3 linked regions of the Homo sapiens genome follow. The protein of the gene in region 1 purifies or fractionates together with the protein of each later gene. This does not show direct contact. Each region holds a gene or a part of one and is shown on either strand. Other genes may lie near its edges.

Evidence for each region. The genes of interacting proteins can lie anywhere in the genome.
Region 2: the proteins of PHETA1 (region 1) and INPP5B purify together in Homo sapiens (affinity purification with mass spectrometry; 2 studies listed by BioGRID and IntAct, with this or other methods). This does not show direct contact.
Region 3: the proteins of PHETA1 (region 1) and SPG7 purify together in Homo sapiens (affinity purification with mass spectrometry; 2 studies listed by BioGRID and IntAct, with this or other methods). This does not show direct contact.

The regions. Positions count from the first base shown.
Region 1 is NC_000012.12:111,360,160-111,366,102, forward strand, and holds the end of PHETA1 (sesquipedalian-1), read right to left. Parts: intron 5,493-5,943; exon of another isoform or gene 5,408-5,492; coding exon of another isoform or gene 5,405-5,407; intron 5,398-5,404; exon of another isoform or gene 5,236-5,397; intron 3,305-5,235; coding exon of another isoform or gene 3,269-3,304; coding exon 2,519-3,268; 3' UTR 520-2,518; downstream 1-519. UniProt on the Homo sapiens protein: Plays a role in endocytic trafficking. Required for receptor recycling from endosomes, both to the trans-Golgi network and the plasma membrane.
Region 2 is NC_000001.11:37,860,195-37,867,077, forward strand, and holds the end of INPP5B (type II inositol 1,4,5-trisphosphate 5-phosphatase isoform 1 precursor), read right to left. Parts: intron 6,569-6,883; coding exon of another isoform or gene 6,472-6,568; intron 6,350-6,471; coding exon 6,265-6,349; intron 5,695-6,264; coding exon 5,567-5,694; intron 4,230-5,566; coding exon 4,118-4,229; intron 2,237-4,117; coding exon 2,121-2,236; 3' UTR 503-2,120; downstream 1-502. UniProt on the Homo sapiens protein: Hydrolyzes phosphatidylinositol 4,5-bisphosphate (PtIns(4,5)P2) and the signaling molecule phosphatidylinositol 1,4,5-trisphosphate (PtIns(1,4,5)P3), and thereby modulates cellular signaling events.
Region 3 is NC_000016.10:89,546,379-89,553,404, forward strand, and holds part of SPG7 (mitochondrial inner membrane m-AAA protease component paraplegin isoform 1 precursor), read left to right. Parts: intron 1-279; coding exon 280-382; intron 383-1,624; coding exon 1,625-1,735; intron 1,736-2,316; coding exon of another isoform or gene 2,317-2,339; exon of another isoform or gene 2,340-2,404; intron 2,405-4,115; coding exon 4,116-4,231; intron 4,232-6,600; coding exon 6,601-6,757; intron 6,758-7,026. UniProt on the Homo sapiens protein: Catalytic component of the m-AAA protease, a protease that plays a key role in proteostasis of inner mitochondrial membrane proteins, and which is essential for axonal and neuron development.

The sequences.
Region 1 (5,943 bases):
CCCTCTGAACTTGCATTGGTGCTAGAATCCTCTTCACTCCAGCTCCCTCCACAGCCTCCATGAACTTATCAGTGAGAAGCACGCAGTTTCGACTCTTCCATCTGCCATCCTGATCAGGATTGTTAATGTCCCTCCCAACTCTCAGGTCTTCAGCCCAGTTAGCTTTCAAATCTTTGGCTTCTCCCTGCCTTCTCTACCTTCTGAAAAGGAACTTTGGGCTCCGTTTTCCCTCATATTCCTCCTGAAGACTCTGTCCTGTCACGGGATTTCAGAGATTTACATCCCTGCTCTTATACTCTCTAGCTATGTGGCTTTGGCAAGTTTCATAACCTCAGTGAGCCTGTTTCCACATCTGTAAAACGGGACCAGCATCTGCCTTGAGAAGTGAGAACGTGCCTGGCAGGGCACCAGCCATGTGGGACCACACACTAGTCCCTGCCCTTGCACAGCCTGCTCTGGGCTCTGCCAGGGAAATCAATCAAGGATTTTGATGGGGAAAAAAAATGACACAATCAGCCATTACTTGACAAAATTTTACTTTAGCCCTTGCATCTCCCTGCCAGGCTGCCGGACAGCTCCCCCGACACCCAACCCAGGAGGCAGCCTGATCCCACCTTGTGCTTTGGTAGGGGACATCCCTCACCCCTCTCTCCCAGGAGACCAGGGCCAACGTACCTTGAGAGTCTGTAAACCTACGCCAGGACTGGGGTTAACACCCCAGCCCACCAGCTGAGTCTGCCAGGACACGGGGCTCTGGGAAGCTCTGAACCCCTCCCATGCCCCAGATCCTGTGCCACCCACACCCACACCACTCAGGACTCTGGAAGGAGGTGAGCGGGGACCATACCAAGACCCCAGAGGTGCCTGTGGAGAGCAGGGCTTGCTGGGGGGAAGACAATGAAGCAGCCAAGGATCCCTCTCGAGGGGCTCTGTCTCTGGCTGTGCTTCTCCAGCCCAAGCTGCCCCTCTCCCCGGGGGCAGTGACAACTGTTCCCCCAGAGCAAGTCCAGAGTCACAGACCGTATCCCCTCCCACCAGCAAACAGGAAACTAAAGCAGTGAAAACATCAAGCTTTGTTGCCAGAGAAAAAAAAATGAACCCTAAGTATTTAAAATTCAGACGGAAGTCCCAGCCCACCGGGCCAGCCGTGAGCTGCAGAGGCCTTGATTGCAGACACACACCCCTCCATATTTCCCCAAGCTCAAGGGTCTCCAGAGACAGAAGGAAGGGGTTTTGGGCTGAGTCTGTCACCAAGAGGCAGCGTTTGGGAAAATCAAGGTCAGGGTGGAGGTGTCCTCAGGGGGCCACCGGTGTGGGGCACTGAGGACTGTAAACATGACCCAGGGTGAGGGCCAGGAGGTGTCCCAGCCCCGAGGTTCTCCCTGGATGAAAAATGGGCACTGTGGTGAGAAGAAAGGGGACCGGCGGTCAGCCCCGAAGCCAAGCAAGACCTGGTCCCCACCAGGAGTATGGGGGTGGGGGCTGAGCTCAGGAGGGGACATGTTAGAGGGGGCTGCCTGGAGCTGAAGAGGGGCTCTGGAAGCCACACTCGGTGTGCGGCTTTTTCTCCGCCACTAGGTCAGCACCTGGGCCTTCCTAGGCGGTGAGTCAGCTGGTGGCCTCCCCTCCCTGGGGGAACCTGCTAGAAGGTCACCTCGGGCCATGGCTACCCAGCCCAGGAAGGGAGGTCAGGCAAGCTCCCAAGGGGCCCCAGGCCTAGGGGCCAAGACTGAAGGATGCAGTCAAGGAGTGTCTGGAGAGCCCTGTGAGAGCCACCACGGAGACACAGACAGGGCCCGCGGCCAGAGAGCCACTGCCACCAGGAGCACCACCATGAGGCCTGGCAGGGGACTTTTGGCAGAGTCCTGCCTCAGCCAGCCCAGGCCAGGAGCCCCGAGGACCAGGCCACCTCACCCTTCCGGTCCTGCACTAACACCTGCACCTGTGTCCCCAGTCACTACCCTCCCAGCCACCGTCCTGCTCCTGGAGGCAGGCAGGCACAGAGCCAGGCCAGCTCCTCTGGCAGGTCCCGGAGCAAGGCCAGGCCCAGGTGTGGCTGCCATGACCGATCCTCCCTCTGTCCACCCTGAAGGCCTGGTCAGGAGCTGCACTAACTGTGCATTTGCTTTTCAGGCCACAGATCGCCCTCAGTCCCAGTGACCCTCTGAGCTGCAGGCCCGGCAATGCCTGTTGCCAGCACAGGCCTCTGCCCGGCAGCTCAGGCCAGCCTGGGGCCGGAGTTCTCAGGAAACCTCCCCCTCAGGCCCTGGATTCTCCTTAGTGTTGCACGTGACGTTCCCCTCAAGGGTAGGCCTTCTGGGTCACATGGTCCTAAAGGCCCACTCAGAATCCAGCACCTTCTCAGAGCCTGCATCCCCCAAAACCAGGCCACTCAGGGCCTGGGGGCCAGCCTTGCCCATGATTTCCCTCAGGATCTGCTCCCCCAGTCTCTCCAGGACCCGGCCTGTCCCAGAGGGCATAGAGCTTGTGTCCCCCTAAAACAGGCGCCCTGGTGGCCTCAGGGCTGGACCCGGCTGCTGAGCCACTGGCCACGCAGGGCCCGGATCTCCTGGCCATAGCACTCGTGCAGCCGGGCGAAGGGGGCCATGTCCAGGGGCCCGTGGGGTGCCGAGGCCCGGCGGCGAGGCGGTGGTGGAGGGGGCTCGGGTCCAGGCCTGAAGGTGGCCTCAGTGCTCCAGACAGCGCAGCCATTCTCCTTGGGCGGGAGGGCACTGGGCCGGCGGGGCAGGGGCAGGGCTGGGACCGGGGCTGGGGCAGAAGGCAGGGATGGGACTGGGGCCAGGGCAGAGGGCAGGGACGGGGGCAAGGGCAGGGACTGGGGCTGGGGCTGGGGCAGGGCCATGCCACCCCCGCCACGTACAGCCGCCAGCTGCTGCTCCAGCTCGCGCACCACCAGCCGCAGGTAGTCGAAGCTGGCACGCGACAGGGCCTTGACCCAGCCCTCCATGGCATCCTGACTCTCAGCGGCCAGCACGTAGGTGCGCGCCCGGGTCCCCGCAAAGCGCACAGCGAAGGCGAACTCCTCGGCGGCCTCCACCAGCTCCACAGTGCAGCCCTCCAGGATGATGACGCCCACGGGCTCACGGCTGGCAGCGTCCTCGAAGTAGAAGAGCATGTTCCCGCGCAGCACGAACCAGCGCCGGTGGTAGGCCGCGTGCCGCCCACCCTTCTTGTACAGGAAGCCTGCATTGTCCACCGGGGCGTCACAGGTGGCGTAGAAGGCCAGGCTGCGCTCGTTCAGCTTCATGGTGGCAATCGCGGGGCCTGGAGGGGAGCCTGGGGCCTGGACCCCATAGAAGGGCTGTTATGCACAAGGCCACTGACGCTAGGTCACCCAGTGCCCCAAGGGGACCTTGCAGCCACTCTACATCCCCGTTTCACAGATGAGGAAACTGACGCTCATAGGGTGGAAGCAGCTGGCCTATGCGCCCACAACTCCTAAGAAGCAGAGACAGGACTGGAACCTGGGTCTCACGGGCCTCCCCAGACAGCCTCATAACCTCCTACCCTCCTGTATCCCTGAAATAATGTTGTGAGTTCCTGCTGCATGCCAGACATTTCAGAGGAATGAACTCACTTTATCTCACAATAGACCTTAGGTCACAGGGACTGGCCTGGCACCAGTGCAACAGATGAGGAAACAGAGGCACAGAGAGGTTAACTGCTTCCCTGGTGTCACAAAGCAGGTTGGGCAGGGCTGAAATCCAAACCCAGGCCTCATTTCAGGCGCTGCTGTTTCCATCATCCCAAGAACAAGACCAGCTGGCCTTCTGCAGTCCCTGCCAGGTCCCAGCCCTGACTTTGTGGTTCGACTTTGGTTTGTTCATCCATGAAATGGATGAGCAGAACCAACTTTGGAGAGTTGTAGAGATTGATTTCATTCATAAAATGTTTATTAAGCATCTACTGGGTGCCAGGCATTGTTCCAGGCCTAGGGATATAGCAATAACAAGATGGACAGGGTCGTCCAGCCTGGCCAACACAGTGAAACCCCTTCTCTACTAAAAATACAAAAAATAAGCCAGGCGTGGTGGCGGGCGCCTGTAATCCCAGCTACTCGGGAGGCTGAGGCAGGAGAATCACCTAAACCCAGGAGGCGGAGGTTGCAGTGAGCCGAGATTATGCCATTGCACTCCAGCCCGGGCAATAATGTGACACTCTGTCTCAAAAAAAAAAAAAAAGATGGACACGGTCCCTGCCCTCGTGGTGTTGAAATGCCACTGGCAAGTGAAAGGGAGCAGACAGTTAACAAACAGATAAGACGTCTGCCAGGTAGTCTCATGTTCTATGGAAAATAGTAAGACAGGGGCTGGGCACAGTGGCTCACGCCTGTAATCCCAGCACTTTGGAAGGCCAAGGCCAATCCTTCTCACCTGAGGTCAGGAGTTCGAGACCAGCCTGGCCAACATGGCAAAACCCCATCTCTACTAAAAAACAGCCAGGTGAGGTGGTGCACGCCCATAATCCCAGCTACTTGGGAGACTGAGGCAGAAGAATCGCTTGAACCCAAGAGGCGGAGGTTGCAGTGAGCCAAGACTGCGCCATTGCAGTCCAGCCTGGGCGACAGAGCAAGACTCCATCTCAAAAAAAAAAAAAAAATAGCCAGGCATGGTGGGGGGTGCCTATAATCCCAGGTACTTGGGAGGCTGAGGCAGGAGAAGTGCTTGAACCCAGGAGACAGAAGTTGCAGTCAGCCGAGATTGCACTACTACACTCCAGCCTGGGGACAGAGCCAGACTCCGTCTCAAAAAAAAAGAAAGAATTTGGGGAAAGATGCAGGCCCAGGGCTAGGCTGACTTACAGGAAGGAGGGGCAGGGGGTCGACCCGTGCCATTTAGCATAGAGGACTCTAACTCCATGCCATCGGCCACAGTGACCCCATCCACCTTCCCCCAAGGAGTATATGATGGGGCAACGCTGGCCAGGAAGGACTTGTCGGGAGGTGGCATCTGCGTCCCTGGCCTGGCCACCTTCCCTTGGGGTTTTCCATGGCCATTTTGAGAGCCTGCCTTATCTCCCACTGCAGAGCCTCAGCCTGCATAGGATGGTAGCTACATTTTTCAAGAAGCAAAGGATATAAAGTCCTGGTACGCAGTAGGCACTCAGTGTTCATTCCCCTGCCTGGGTGGTGTCTTTCTCAGAGCCTGGTGGAATGAGGTCAGGGTGGTGGCTCTCCTGGGAGCAGGTGACCGCAGTGAGGCCCTGCCAGACTACCTGTCCTAGGGTGGAGGGGGTTGTCCTTGCCACCTCCTGTCAGCCACATAGGCAGTCAGGGAAGGCTTCCTAGAAGACGGAACATGAGTTGTGACTTAGAAACTGAGATCAACCAACCCAAATGCCCATCAATGATAGACTGAATAAAGGAAATGTGGTACATACACACCATGGAAAACTATCCAGCCATAAAAAGGAATGAGATCATGTCCTTTGCGGGGAAATAGATGGAGCTGGAAGCCATCATCCTCAGCAAACTAACACAGGAACAGAAAACCAAATACCGCATGTTCTTACTCATAAGTGGGAGTTGAACAATGAGACACATGGACACAGGGAGGGGCAGAACACATATCGGGGCCTGTTGGGGGATCGGGGGTGAGGGGAGGGAACTTAGAGAACGGGTCAATGGTGCAGCAAGCCACCATGGCACACGTATACCTATGTGACAAGCCTGCATGTTCTGCACATGTATCATGGAACTTAAAATAAAAAAAGAAACTGAGGTCAGTTTGTCCTGACCTAGTGGGAGGCCAAGGCCAGAGCCCCCAAAGTCTCCAGGTGTTGAATCCCCACCCTGCCTCTCAGCTACAGCTGTCCCTCTCTAAGCCGCAGGGATTCACGCATTCCCCACACCACCACCCATCAACTCCCATGTGGATGCTGGCCCCGGTTCTCACAGGACCCTCCCGCCCTGCTTGCCCAGTT
Region 2 (6,883 bases), on another chromosome or scaffold:
CCCAGGCTGGCGGTCCCAACTTTCTTCCCCTGCAAGAGGACGCGGCTACGGCGGGACTCATGCCCGGGCCAGTTAGCGCCACCTACCGGCCACTCCCTTCCTTTCACCGTTCACATTGTCCTGCTGGCCCGCGTCTTAAACCCATTTCACAGTGCCCAGAAGTAGTGGGCATTCGTACCCAGGAAGCGATTCTGCCTTCGTTATGCCCCTGTCCTTTCCAAATGCCTGGAGGATCTAGCTGTTAGATCCTCCCAGCTGCCACTGCCTGTTTTAACCATAAGCTGCTTCTCTCGAATATTCAGAGTGGGACAACTCCAAAGACCAGACCAGGGGTCAAGGGGTTCAGGTCAGTGCCATAACCATTTCTTGCTGGAAGTATGTGAATAGTGACTGGTACCCACCAGACTGCCAGGAATATGTCTCTTTGGCCCCAAGGCTTGAGCCACAAAATCCAGCTGCAGCGAACTGCCATCTCTTAAGACATAAAAACATACACAACCGCCACTGTTAAAAATACATTTATCATTAAAATATATTACACATGGAGACAGGATGCATCATATACAGTTTGGAAGACTTGCTGGCCCAGAAAATCCCACTTGTTTCACCGAACACTCATTTTTTCAGTGATTTTACATTTTATTTTTAGAGACGGGGTCTCCCTCTCTCACCCGGGCTGGCGTACAGTGATGTGGTCATAGGTCACTGCAGCCTCAAACTCCTGTGCTCAAGTGAGCCACCCACGTCAGCCTCCCAAGTAACTGGGACCACAGGCATGCATCACCACACCCAGCTAATTTTTTAAAAATGTTTTTGTAGAGAGGGGGTCTCCCTGTGTTGCCCAGCCTGGTCCCAAACTCCTGGTCTCAAGTGATGCTCCCACCTCAGTCTCCCAAAGTGCCGAGATTACAGGCGTGAGCCACTGTGCCTGGTCATTTTAATTTTTTAAATGCCTGTATTGCCCTCAGAGGCTGAGCAACCAGCCTCAGAGTTATTGAGCCATTATCTGGGCAGGAACGGGGGTCGAGTTTGCATATGCATATACACATCCTCAGACAGAGCACTGAAAGCATCTGAGGTGGCTGTAGCCTATTTTATCCAGCAGCTTCTGCCTGCATTCTTGCCATCCAACTCATTGGCCTTTCAGGACTTTCCATCAAATATCTGATCATGGGGATCTCAGCCCAGACTGACTATGCCCTGGAGGTAGGGTGAGTGAGTACAAGTACAGTTATTTAAAAACATTTTAGGCCAGGCGTGGTGGTTCATGCCTGTAATCCCAGCACTTTGGGAGGCCAAGGCAGGTGGATCACCTGAGGCCAGGCATTCGAGACCAGCCTGGCCAACATGGTGAAACCGTGTCTATACTAAAAACACACAAAAAAATTAGCCAGGCATGGTGGCGGACGCCTATAATCCCAGCTACTCGAGAGGCTGAGGCAGGAGAATTGCTTGAACCAAGGAGGCAGAGGTTGCAGTGAGCCAAGACCACGCCAACGCACTCCAGCCTGGGCAACAAGAGTGAAACTCCATCTCAAAAAAGAAAAAAAAAAAAAAAAGGCCGGGCGTGGTGGCTCACATCTGTAATCCTAGCACTTGGGGAGGCCGAGGCAGGCAGATTACCTGAGTTCAGGAGTTTTAGAACAGCCTGGGCAACACGGTGAAACCCCGTCTCTACTAAAATGCAAAAAATTAGCTGGGCGTGGCAGTGTGTGCCTGCAGTCCCAGCTACTCGGGAGGCTGAGGCAGGATAATTGCTTGCACCCAGGAGGCAGAGGTTGCAGTGAGCCGAGATCGTGCCACCGCACTCCACCCTGCGCGACAGAGCAAAACTCCGTCTCAAAATAAAAAAAAATAAAAAATAAAAAAATCTGTGTTAAATAACTAAAGTTGAAAATTGAATGTCAGTTTTATTATGGTGGATTTTCTCCCGTGTCTTCACGACTCACAGCGCTGAGTGTGCTAACCAATGGTGGGCTTAATTGGGGTACTAGGCTCAGGAAATAGCTGCCATTCTTGCTACCAAGTGGCCTCACATAATTATCTTAAGGCATCTCTTGAGCTGAAACAGGTGGGGCTGGTAATTGGCAGCCTCAAGTAAAATAGGAGGAGAGAGAGGCTCAGAGTGGGTTGCAGAGGAACTGGTGAATAAATTCTTGAGCCTTCTTCTTCTCTGTCATATCAAGCTTTTGGTGACCAGCTGGGTTTCGAAGCAATAAGCTGCCAAATATGCTAGCTGCAAGAAAAAACACAGAAAAGAAATGATTCAGCAAAAGAAGGTACTAAAGACACACATCACTTAACGACAGGGATATGTTCTGAGAAATGTGTCATTAGGTGATTTCATCATTGTGCAAACATCATAGCGTGTACTTAAACTTTCACAAACCTGTACTTACACAATTCTAGATGGTATAGTCTATTGCTCCTAAGCTCCTGTACAGCATGTTACTATACTGAATACTACAGGCAATTGTAACACAGTGCTAAGTATTTGTGCATCCAAATATATCTAAACATAGGAAAGGCACATCAAAAATACGGTATTATGAGCTGGGTGTGGTGGCTCACACCTATAATCCCAGCACTTTGGGAAGCCAAAGCGGGCAGATCACTAGAGGCCAGGAGTTCAAGACCAGCTAGGCCAACATGGTAAAACCCCATCTCTACTAAAAATAACAAAAATTAGCCTGTCCCTGCCAGTGGGCTTTCCAAGGGGAATGGTGCTGTGTCAGAGGTGGCTGAGGTTGGGGGGTTGTGGGGGAGGCAGCCCTGCTTGGTGTCCTGCCTCTCTGGTTCCTGCCTCCTCCCCCAACCACCCCGTGTCCCCAGTGGGGGCTCGTCCCCAGGATGCGATGAGGTTCCATGAGCGTGGTAGGGATGGTTGAGGCACGGGCGTTGGAGGGTGTGGCCCGGTGGCCCCTGTCCAAGGGTTGGCTGTGAGGGCCTGGGTGACCATCTGGCTCCCACTGGCTCCCAGCCCTCTCCCATCCTGCAGTGGGGAGGGTCACTGCCCTTTAAAAAAAAAAAAAAAAAAAAGGCAGGGTGCGGTGGCTCAGGCCTGTAATCCCAGCACTTTGGGAGGCCGAGGCGGGTGGAATCACGAGGTCAAGAGATTGAGACCATCCTGGCCAACATGGTAAAACCCTGTCTCTAATAAAAATACAAAAATTAGCTGGGCATGGTGGTGCGCGCCTGTAGTCCCAGCTACTCGGGAGGCTGAGGCAGGAGAATTGCTTGAACCCGGGTGGCGGAGGATGCAGTGAGCTGAGATCACGCCACTGCACTCCAGCCTGGCGACAGAGCGAGACTCCATCTCTAAAAAATTAAATTAAATTAAATTAAAAAGCTGGGCATAGTGGCAAGCGCCTATAATCCCAGCTACTCAGGAGGCCGAGGCACAAGAATCACTTGAACCCAGGAGGCAGAGGTTGCAGTGAGCTGAGATCACACCACTGCACTCCAGCCTGGGTGACAGAGTGAGACTTTCTCAAGCACACACACACACACACATGCACACACAAACACACACGCACAAAACCACGGTATTATAATCTTATGGGCCCTCCATCGTATATGTGGTCTTTCGTTGACCAAGATGTTATATGGTACATGACTATACTTTTTTTTTTTTTTTTGAGATGGAGTCTCACTCTGTCGCCCAGGCTGGAGTGCAGTGGTGCGGTCTCGGGTCACTGCAGCCTCCGCCTCCCAGTTTCAAGCGATTCTCCTAACTCAGCCTCCCGTTTAGCTGGGATTACAGGCATGCACCACCACACTCAGCTAATTTTTGTATTTTTAGTAGAGATGGGGTTTCACCATGTTGGCCAGGCTGGTCTTGAACTCCTGACCTCAGGTGATCCGTCCACCTGAGCCTCACAAAGTGCTAGGACTACAGGTGTGAGCCACCGCCCCCAGCCCATGACTATACTTACTCTTGTGTTGTTAGGAGTGGGGAGGAGTGTCCAAACGCAAAACTTTCTGCTTTAAAAAATCTTTGCCCAGAGCTTGATATTTTAGTTCTACTGCAAGGGACCTGGGACCCTCCTCAACCTCATTTCTCATTACGAGTCTCTCAGTTTGCAGAAATGCTTTCCATAGACATTTGGCTGCTTACCTAGAATATTCTCATCCAAATGATTTTTTGCTGAATTTTTCAGCAGTTCTCGCAAAAACGCCATCAAGTAGTGGAAGACATTTTTGTGGAATATGGGGAGAGTAGAAATGACCTGAAAGAGGAAGAACCGGGATTTGTCTTTTGTTCACTGAATCATTTCTCAAGTGCCTACTATAGTCCAAGAACTGTATACACGATCCAAGTGCACGAGAAAGACTGTGCACAGAAAACTGGTTGCTTACCACTTGGCATAAGTATCAAAAGAGAGGTACGGGTCAAATGCAACATGAATTTAGAAGTCAAACTTTTAACTACATGTTCCTATAAGACTGAAAGAAATAAGACATTTTAGTTGGGTCTTGAATGTAAGACAAAATGGGACTTACAGAGGTTAATAACTGGGGTGAGAGCAAAGAAAGTATAAAAAAAGGGCAGGAGAAGGGAAATAGTGAAGTAAGTAGAGAGAACACTTTATGAGAAGTCAATTTTGGCAGGAGCATAATTAGAAGGGTTGATCAGGCCCTGATCAATGAGTACTCCAGCTATCTGCATATCAGAATCAGTTTGGAAGTTTGAATAGATTCCAAAAGTGATTATGGGCTCAGTGGCTCATGCCTGTAATCCCAGCACTTTGGGAGGCCGAAGAGGGTGGATCACCTGAGGTCAGTAGTTCAAGACCAACCTGGCCAACATGGTGAAACCCCATCTCTACTAAAAATACAAAAATTAGCCAGGCATGGTGGTGCACGCCTGTAATCCCAGCTACTCAGGAGGCTGGGGCAGGAGAATCGCTTGAACCTGGGAGGCATTACAGTGAGCTGAGATCGCGCCAATGCACTCCAGCCTGGGTGACACAGCAAGACTCCATCTCAAAAAAAAAAAAAGTGTGATTCAGTAGATTTGGGGTGTGGCTTTAGAATCTCTATTATTGGCAAGTTTTCTAGATTATTCTGCCAAGGCCTGTTGTATGTGTGAACCACCAAGCTAGATCATAGAACGTCTTCAATATTTAAGAAAATCAGTAATTGGCAATAGAGAGCCAAGTATAGTTTTTGACCAACAGTCACATGACAATAGCTTTAGAATACACAATCTGATGGCAGCATGCAAAACAAATCAGCAGAAGGAGATCGTGAATGCAGGGCACTGAACCAAGCTAAGTGCAATGAGAATGGAAGAGAGAGGATGGGTGATAGATCAACGAGACTGGGCACATGGGAGGCAAGGAGAGGGTGGAGTCAGAAATGACTCAGGTTTCGGGGTTGACTCACTGGAATTAAGGGTGATGCCATTAAAAGAAACAAAGACATAAGAGAAAGAGCAGGTTTGAGAAGGAAAGATAAGGTGTTCAGTTTCTGAGATGCTGCACTTGAGGAACTGTGTCCACTCTGTTCCCTTAGCCCCATGGGGTCTGGGGCTAACCACATGCTGCTCAATGCTTCCTCTCACCTGTTTGCTTGCTGTGTAGTTGCCAGAACACTCCAAGCAGTTATGGTAGGTGCTGTAACAGATGACAGGCTCTGGAAGGCTCTCCAGGAAAAGCAGCAGGGCTTCGGCTACAGAATGATTGCTGGCAGCTTTTGGCCCCATTGTTAAGGAACCGATAATGCTGCTGTCCATGGTTAGGAAAAGGCCCAGGAGCAAGCACATGCCAGAAGTGCTGCCTGCCCTGTCAGGCTCTCTGCTCAGGGCTAGGATGCCAGCCTAACTTCTCGAAGGGACCACACTGTTTGTCAGGTGAGCCAGGCCCTCCTGAGTTCCTGCTCTATTGGTTGCTTAAAGTTGTAAATTCTTAGCCTGGGCAACATGGCGAAACCCTGCCTCTACGAAAAGTTCAAAAATTAGCCAAGTGTGGTAGTATGCACCTGTGGTCCCAGCTACTCGGGAGGCTGAGGTGGGAGGCTCCACAGGCTCCAGCCTGGGTGATAGAGATGGACCCTGTCTCAAAAAATAAATAAATAAAGTTGTAAAGTCTTCTCTATGCAAACTTTAAGTAAAACATGGTAGCTGAGGATACAATATCAGATTTTGAGCCATAAAATACTTTACTTTTTCTCACCCCTCTCACTCATATTCTCTCTCTCTCTCTCTCTCTCACACACACACACACACACACACACACACAGAGCTGAATGTCTGAAGGATACAGAGGTTATCAATCATTCCAGTATCCAAGCAGTCCCTGATATGTTCAAATTCTGACCTCAGGCCTGGTTGCTGAAACAGATCTTCCTGCAAAAGGGAAGACAGTAACAAAATAATTATTTTCTCAGAAAATCATCAATGATTTCCTGACCTGGCAATATCAATAGCAGAATGCAAAAAGGAGCAGTGTGGTGAGGCCTCTGAATCACCTGACAGATGATCTGATTTAGGCTGATGTGGCGAATTCATCTTGCAGGCCTTCCCTGGCATGTTTCTACAATAGGTCTTCAGGCATCTATTATAAAACTATGGGTAGGGCACACATCACACAAGAAGATCCAACATTGGAGAAAATGTAAAAGCAGCTATGTGTCCTGCAGTGGTATAGAGGGATTACCCAGGGGAAAAAAAATGAAGAAAATATACAGTGCATAAGAGCATAAGAGAACGCTAACAAGGCACCTCAATGCTTTGGGCAAATAAAATTATGGCAGCCATCAGGCGTGTTGGCTTATGCCTGTAATCCCAGAACTTTGGGAGGCAGAGGCGGGTGGATCACGAGGTCAGGAGATTGAGACCATCCTGGCCAACACGGTGAAACCCCGTCTTTAATAAAAATAC
Region 3 (7,026 bases), on another chromosome or scaffold:
TTTAAAATGCTGCTTGTGGCCAGGCATGGTGGCTCACGCCTGTAACCCCAGCACTTTGGGAGGCCGAGGCAGGTGGATCACTTGAAGCCAGGAGTTCGAGACCAGCCTAGCCAACTTTGCGAAACCCCGTCTCTACTAAAAATACAAAACTCAGGCATGATGGCACACACTTGTAATCCCAGCTACTTGGGGACCCCCCCCCCCCACAGACAAACATGCCGCACCTGTGGCAGTAACTAGGCTTGAGCCCGACTGTCTTTCCTCCCCTGGTTCTGGCAGGAGAGGCGGGAGATTTTTGAGCAGCACCTGAAGAGCCTGAAGCTGACCCAGTCCAGCACCTTTTACTCCCAGCGTCTGGCAGAGCTGACACCAGGATTCAGTGGTACGTTCTCAACCCGCAGCCTGGGCAGCGTCACGTCCTGAGGGCAGGTGGTGTCACCTGCGCAAACAGCATCGAGGCCTCCTCTGTGGGGTGGGCGCTGCTCCTTCTCTGGGGGCCTCTGCTCAGTACAAGCCTGGGAGGGAGCTGATGTGTATGTGGGGCAGCAGGAGGTCCAGACGGCACCCGCACTCCGTCCTCCGCCCCGGGGTGGAAAAGCAGACGGTGGTTCCCGGTCTGTGTTGTTTCCAGAGATAGTGGAGTTATGTTGCTTCCACACAGTGACCAGTCATGCCGGCGTTTCCCGTCAGACCCAGAGTCAGACCACGCAGTCCCGGCAAAGCCGCCTCCCTCTGACCCTCACGGTCTCTGTCAAGTTGTAGAAATAGAAATCATACCTCAAGATGCTTTTCCTGCTGTGTGGTTCACATTTTAAAAGTTAATGTCAACAAACCTCCCTTTTATTATGAGATGAATTTGCCCTTTGATTATTCGTTAGGGTCTTTCACTAGAATTTTGTGGTTACTAGAGAGCCTTTAATTTCTTTGCCATCAATGCTCATGAGCTGTTAGGTGGAATCAGCCACAAGATGGGGTGTGGAACTAACTGCCCTTGGGAGGAGAGACGGGCGTCAGGGCGGATGGAGCCTGGCGGTTCTGTGTCTCGTCTGTGGAATGGCCTCAGTGGAACACGGTGCAAGTGCCTGCCGCTCTCCCCACCCCTGCTCCTGGCGCCGGCGCCTGCCGCTCTCCCCAGCTCTGCTCCTGGCGCCAGCTCCCCGTGCCTCTCTCCCAGACGCTCTCACCAGCACTCTTGGTTCTTGGTCTCTTTTCCCTCTTTGTTCTTCCTTTTATTTATTTACTTATTTATTTTGAGACAGAGTCCTACTCTGTCGCCCAGACTGGAGTGCAGTGGCGTGATCTTGGCTCCCCGCAGCCTCCGCCTCCTGGGTTCAACCGATTTTCCTGCCTCAGCCTCCTGAGTAGCTGGGATTACAGGCGCTCACCACCACGCCCGGCTAATTTTTGTATTTTTAGTAGCAATAGGGTTTCACCCTGTTGGCCAGGCTGGTCTCAAACTCCTGACCTCAGGTGATCTGCCCACCTCAGCCTCCCAAAGTGCTGGGATTACAGGGGTGAGCCACCATGCCCGGCCATCTTTGTTCTCCCTTGAGGGCCCCTTCCTCCTCTTAAGCCCTGATAGCAGAAACCCACCCACCCACACCGTGGCTGTTTGTGTTGACAGGGGCTGACATCGCCAACATCTGCAATGAGGCTGCGCTGCACGCGGCGCGGGAGGGACACACTTCCGTGCACACTCTCAACTTCGAGTACGCCGTGGAGCGCGTCCTCGCAGGTACAGGGGGCGCGCCCTGGGTGAAGGCCCTCCTTAGCAGGGCTTGAACCCCAGAAATACCCAGGCAGGTATTGAGAGGTGAGGTGGATGGAACCATCACACAGGAAGGAACACACGTTGCGTTTCAGTTCTGCGTAACTCATGTCTTTATGATACCTTGTACTTTTCCTTAGTTTAAAATATCACAGATTTACCTAAGAGTAGACGCTCGTCCAACAGAAATAAAAAATGCCTTGCCAAAGAAAGTGAAAAAATAAAAATAAAAAATGCCCCCCAAAAATAAAAATAATAAAAACTAAAAATGTCTTGCCAGCCTGGGTGTGGTGGGCTCAGCCTAGCCCCAGCCTCATGGGGGCTGAGCTCCAGCCGCTGACTGTGGGCCGGAGGGCTGCTGCCGCCCGTGGCTGTGGAGGGACAGCCGTGCTTTCAGCGCAGCAGGGGCTCTGCGGAGAGGTGTGGATCTGCAGCACCACCTCTGGTGAAACTCATGGTCCCGACCGTCAGTAGGAACGGGAGATGAGTTTTGGTGACGGGTGACCGGTGGGCTGACCGCCTCTGACTGCCGTTCCGTGGCTGCTCAGTGTGGGGTCTGCGACGTCTGTGAGGAGAGAGGACCAAACTGGGAATCGGAGCTGCTGGAGGTTTCCATAGCTATGATGGCAACACCCAGACGTGATCAGTCATCTCATGGAATGGAGTTCAGACCCGCACTGTCAGTGTGAGACAGGTTGAACGTTTGAAAAGGGAAGTGGTTCTTGCCCCAGGTGTTTGAGGAGCACGAGCCTCCTTTGCGAGCTATCCCTGCGAGAACCGAGTTCCTCACCCTCAATTCGAGTGAATTCCTAGCACGAACACGCCTCTTGCAGGTCCCCAGGGCTTCAGCTTGGGAAAGCAGTGGGTTCCTGCAGAGGAGTGGGGCAGCTGCTGTGCCAGACACTGCAAAACACACCTGGCTTCTCTCCGACAGCCCTGCGGGTCGAGAGGACTGGCGCTGCCTGTGTCTTACTGAAATTTATTTTCGTGTAACCATTTACTTTTATGTGGAAATCGAAAAGCTTTTGATAATAGTAGCAAAGCAGGAAGGACTGAGTGGGAACCACAAGCCAGTTGAAAGAAAATACATGACGTACTTGAGTGCTCAGGACCACGAGCTGATTCAAGTTGTACAGAATGGACACTTACAGATGTGTGGAAAATCTGAGACAGGAAATGAAGCCTCACCAGTAAGCTGAACAGGGGAGATTTAATGCAAACATTTGTCCCTGGCTGGGCACTGTGGCTCATGCCTGTAATCCCAGCACTTTGGGGGCTGAGGCAGGAGGGTTGCTTGAGGCCAGGAGTTTGAGACCAGCCTGGGCAATACAGCAAGACCCCATCTCTTAAAAGAAAAGAATAAAGAGTATTAGCCAGGCATGGTGGTGGAGCACACCTCTGGTCTCAGCTACTCAGGAGGCTGCAGCAGGAGGATTGCTTGAACCTGGGAGGTTGAAGCAACAGTGAGCCGTGATCGCACCACTGCCCTCCAGCCTGGGCAACAGAGTGAGACCCTGTCACTGACAGAAAAAAAGCCTTGTCCCTGAGGCAAAAAGCTTCTGAAGGGGTGAGTAGAAGCCATAAGGATCCAGAAAGTGATGGGGATGGGAGCTGCGCCTCCAGGTCTGAGGGGAGAGGGAAAGTAAGCAGGAGGCCCGTAACTCAGAGGAGGCCTCTGCCCATCCTGCCAGGGAGAAAGTCAAAAGCTGCTGTTCTGTGACCCTTGCCCCGACCCTGTGGCACCCCCCCAACCATGGGGCAGGAGGAGACACTCCTCAGAGGGTTGCACTTGTTCCTAAAAGCAGCAGGAGCTATTTCGATGATTGCAACATTTATAAAAGAAGAAATCACGACCTCCTTCAACAGCCCTTTGACCTGAAGAGTGTCGTTTTGAGTTGGGGTGTCCAGAGCCGCAGCTGCAGCTCCAAGAGGCAGATGTGCAGAGAGAGGCTTGCTTTGACCACACGGGGCAGGAGCAGGGCCCAGCCAGGGAGAGGCCGGGGTCTCAGCTCACCCCCCCGTCATTCTTTTTTGTTTGTTTTTTGAGACGGAGTCTTGCTCTGTCGCCCAGCCTGGAGTGCAGTGGCATGATCTTGCCCTACTGTAACCTCCGTCTCTCAGGTTCAAGTGATTCTCTTGCCTCAGCCTCCCAAGTAGCTGGGACTGCAGGCGCCCGCCATCACACCTAGCTAATTTTTCTATTTTTAGTAGGGACGGGGTTTCACCATATTGGTCGGGCTGGTCTCGAACTCCTGTCCTCAGGTCATCCGCCCGCCTTGGCCTCCCACAGCGCTGGGATTACAGGCGTGAGCCACCGCGCCCAACTCATACCCCGGCATTCTTTCAGGGACTGCCAAAAAGAGCAAGATCCTGTCCAAGGAAGAACAGAAAGTGGTTGCGTTTCATGAGTCGGGCCACGCCTTGGTGGGCTGGATGCTGGAGCACACGGAGGCCGTGATGAAGGTGGGTCTTGGCAGGTGCCGGCTCCACGGGCCTTGGCCAAAGGTGGGTGGGGAGTCCCGCCTGTGTCTGTAGCTGACTGGGGAGTCCCGCCTGTGTCTGTAGCTGACTGGGGAGTCCCGCCTGTGTCTGTAGGTCATGTGAGAGGAAAGCCTGCCACTGTCATGATCCATGGAGCAGGGTGGGTGGCGACTGATGGGCGGGAACTCGGACGTGGGAGGCAGGAGTGGGCTGTGTCACATCGGAGCATGGTGCTGCTACTGGGGTGACTCGTGGAAGGTTACACCATGCAATGGGGTTTCGCTGCCTTTGCCTGTCCACCCCAAATGACTCCTAACATTGGAAAGAAGTGAGTTGAGTGTACATTTAAAAAATACTATTCTAGGCTGGGCATGGTGGATCACCTGAGGTCAGGAGTTCAAGACCAGCCTGGCCAACAGGGCAAAACTGTCTCTACTTCAAACAAACAAACAAAAAACTACTCTTGTAGGCAGCTGTGAACTCGATGGACATTTATTCTTACCAAATGGTGATGTTACAGCTTCTCTAAGACGTGGCTCCACCACCGGGAGTCCGAGTGCTGCCAAGAGGAGGTCTCTACTCGGAACGCAGGTGCCGTCTTTACAGTGGAGCCCCAGGAAGCCGTGCAGGTTTGAGGCTCACCTGAGAAGGCGGCAGTGCTGTGTTCCTACCTCAGGGTTCACTGCAAACAATGCATACGCTGTAGCAGTTGCCAGCTTGGTTTGTCAGTGCTGGTCTCCGTGATTGGTTCTCAGGTGTGAGTTGTAGCAAAGTTGCGTGTTAATCAGAGAGCGTCCTGCCCATCCCAGGGTCTCAGCAGGGCTGAGGCAGCGTTTGGGGACCAGATCCGTGCTGCTCCTTGGCGATGTGCACCACAGTCATGGGACCAGAGCTAGGCCCACTGTGGGGCGAGTGGACACTCAGCTGGGGGTCCCATTTATGGGACACTAAAAAACTCAGCAGTGAACACGACGTTTTAACACGGTATGTCAAGAAATCAAAATTAATGCAGGGACTTTGGGAGGCCAAGGCGGGCAGATCACTTGAGGTCAGGAGTTCGAGACCAGCCTGGCCAACCTGGTGAAACCCCATCTCTACCAAAAATACAAAAGAATTAGCTGGGCGTGGTGGTGCGTACCTGTAACCCTAGCCACTTGAGAGGTAGAGGCACAAGAATCGCTTAAACCCGGGAGGCAGAGTCTGCAGTGAGCCAAGACTGTGCCACTGTACTCCAGCCTGGGTGACAGAGCAAGACTGTCTCTCAAAGGGAAAAAAAAAGAATTTTTACTGTATTTGATGGGCAAAAGTCAGATAGTCACAATGAAAAAGTGAGTCTCTTTCCCAAGGCTCAGTGTCCTGCCAGGAAAAGGTTGTGAATTGGCTGTTATGGTTTTGGTCATTAATGCAATCATCACTGCAGCCGTTATTTAGAGCTTCTTTTTGTTTTGAGACAGGGTCTCTCTCTCTGTTGCCCAGACCGGAGTCCAGTGGTGCGATCACAGCTCACTGCAGCCTCGACCTTCCGGGCTCACACGATCCTCCTACCTCAGCCTCCTGCATAGCTGGGACTACAGGCATGCCCCACTGGTGGCTCGAGTGATTTTTATATTTTTTGTAGCGAAGGGGTCTCGTTATGTTGCCCAGGCTAGTCTCGAACTCCTGGGCTCATGCAATCTGCCCACCTCTAACTCCCAAAGTACCGAGATCACAGATGTGAGCGACCCCGCCCAGCCTAGTTTTAGATTTTAAATTAAGCGTCCTCGGGATTCTCAGAGCACTTGGATGTGGCCATCTCGCCGCCACAATTCTCAGAAGCAGCAGCTGGGCCAGCCCCTGCCCCGTCTCCGTCCGTCTCCCACTCAGCGGTTCCGTGTTGTCGAGTTAGCTCGTTGCCCCGCGCCACCTCCTTGCACACCTGATGTGGGGCTGTGGGGGAGCAGCAGAGGTGAGGACAGCCTCTGCTGCCTCAGCATCGTGGGGTTCTCATTGCTCTGAACCCTCAGTAGCTGTCGCTGGTGTGAGGGGTCAGCGCAGCGGCCATCGGGGGTGAAACTTGTCCTTCGCCTCTCAGCTGTCTTCTACGGGCCTTGTCTTCTTGACTCCCTGCCTGTCTAGTCATGTATGAGAAGACACTTCCCGGCAGTGTGTGAACAGGCACCTGTGGTGGGAACGCTGCTGTCTCTGGGCTGGCCATCTAGAGTGTTAGGATCCCCTGTTGTTGTAGAGGATGCTGCACATTTGCCTTCCTGCTTTGAGACGCTTTAATGACGGAGACCTCTTAGTCCCACACCTTCCTCCTCAAAGCCCACGCATCCTGCCTACTGACCTGGGTCATCTTGACCTTGTGCCAGGTCTCCATAACCCCTCGGACAAACGCCGCCCTGGGCTTTGCTCAGATGCTCCCCAGAGACCAGCACCTCTTCACCAAGGAGCAGCTGTTTGAGCGGATGTGCATGGCCCTGGGAGGACGGGCCTCGGAAGCACTGTCCTTCAACGAGGTCACTTCTGGTGAGGAGCAGCGGCGCGGGCCCTGGAGGTTTCAGAGCGCTTTTCCCTGCATGACTCCTTCTGTTCCAGTGCATGCCATGGGGTGAATCTGGTGTAGACGTAGCTTTGAATTTATTAAGTATTTTGTAAAAGATAAGTTGTGGTCATAAGAGAGTTGGAGCTAAGCAAGACTTCTTAGATAATTTAATTGGACAAAAACTTAACCTATATGCCAACTCTAGACACATTTAATTGGTTAATTGTTGGTAATGGCTACAGGAAACGGAATA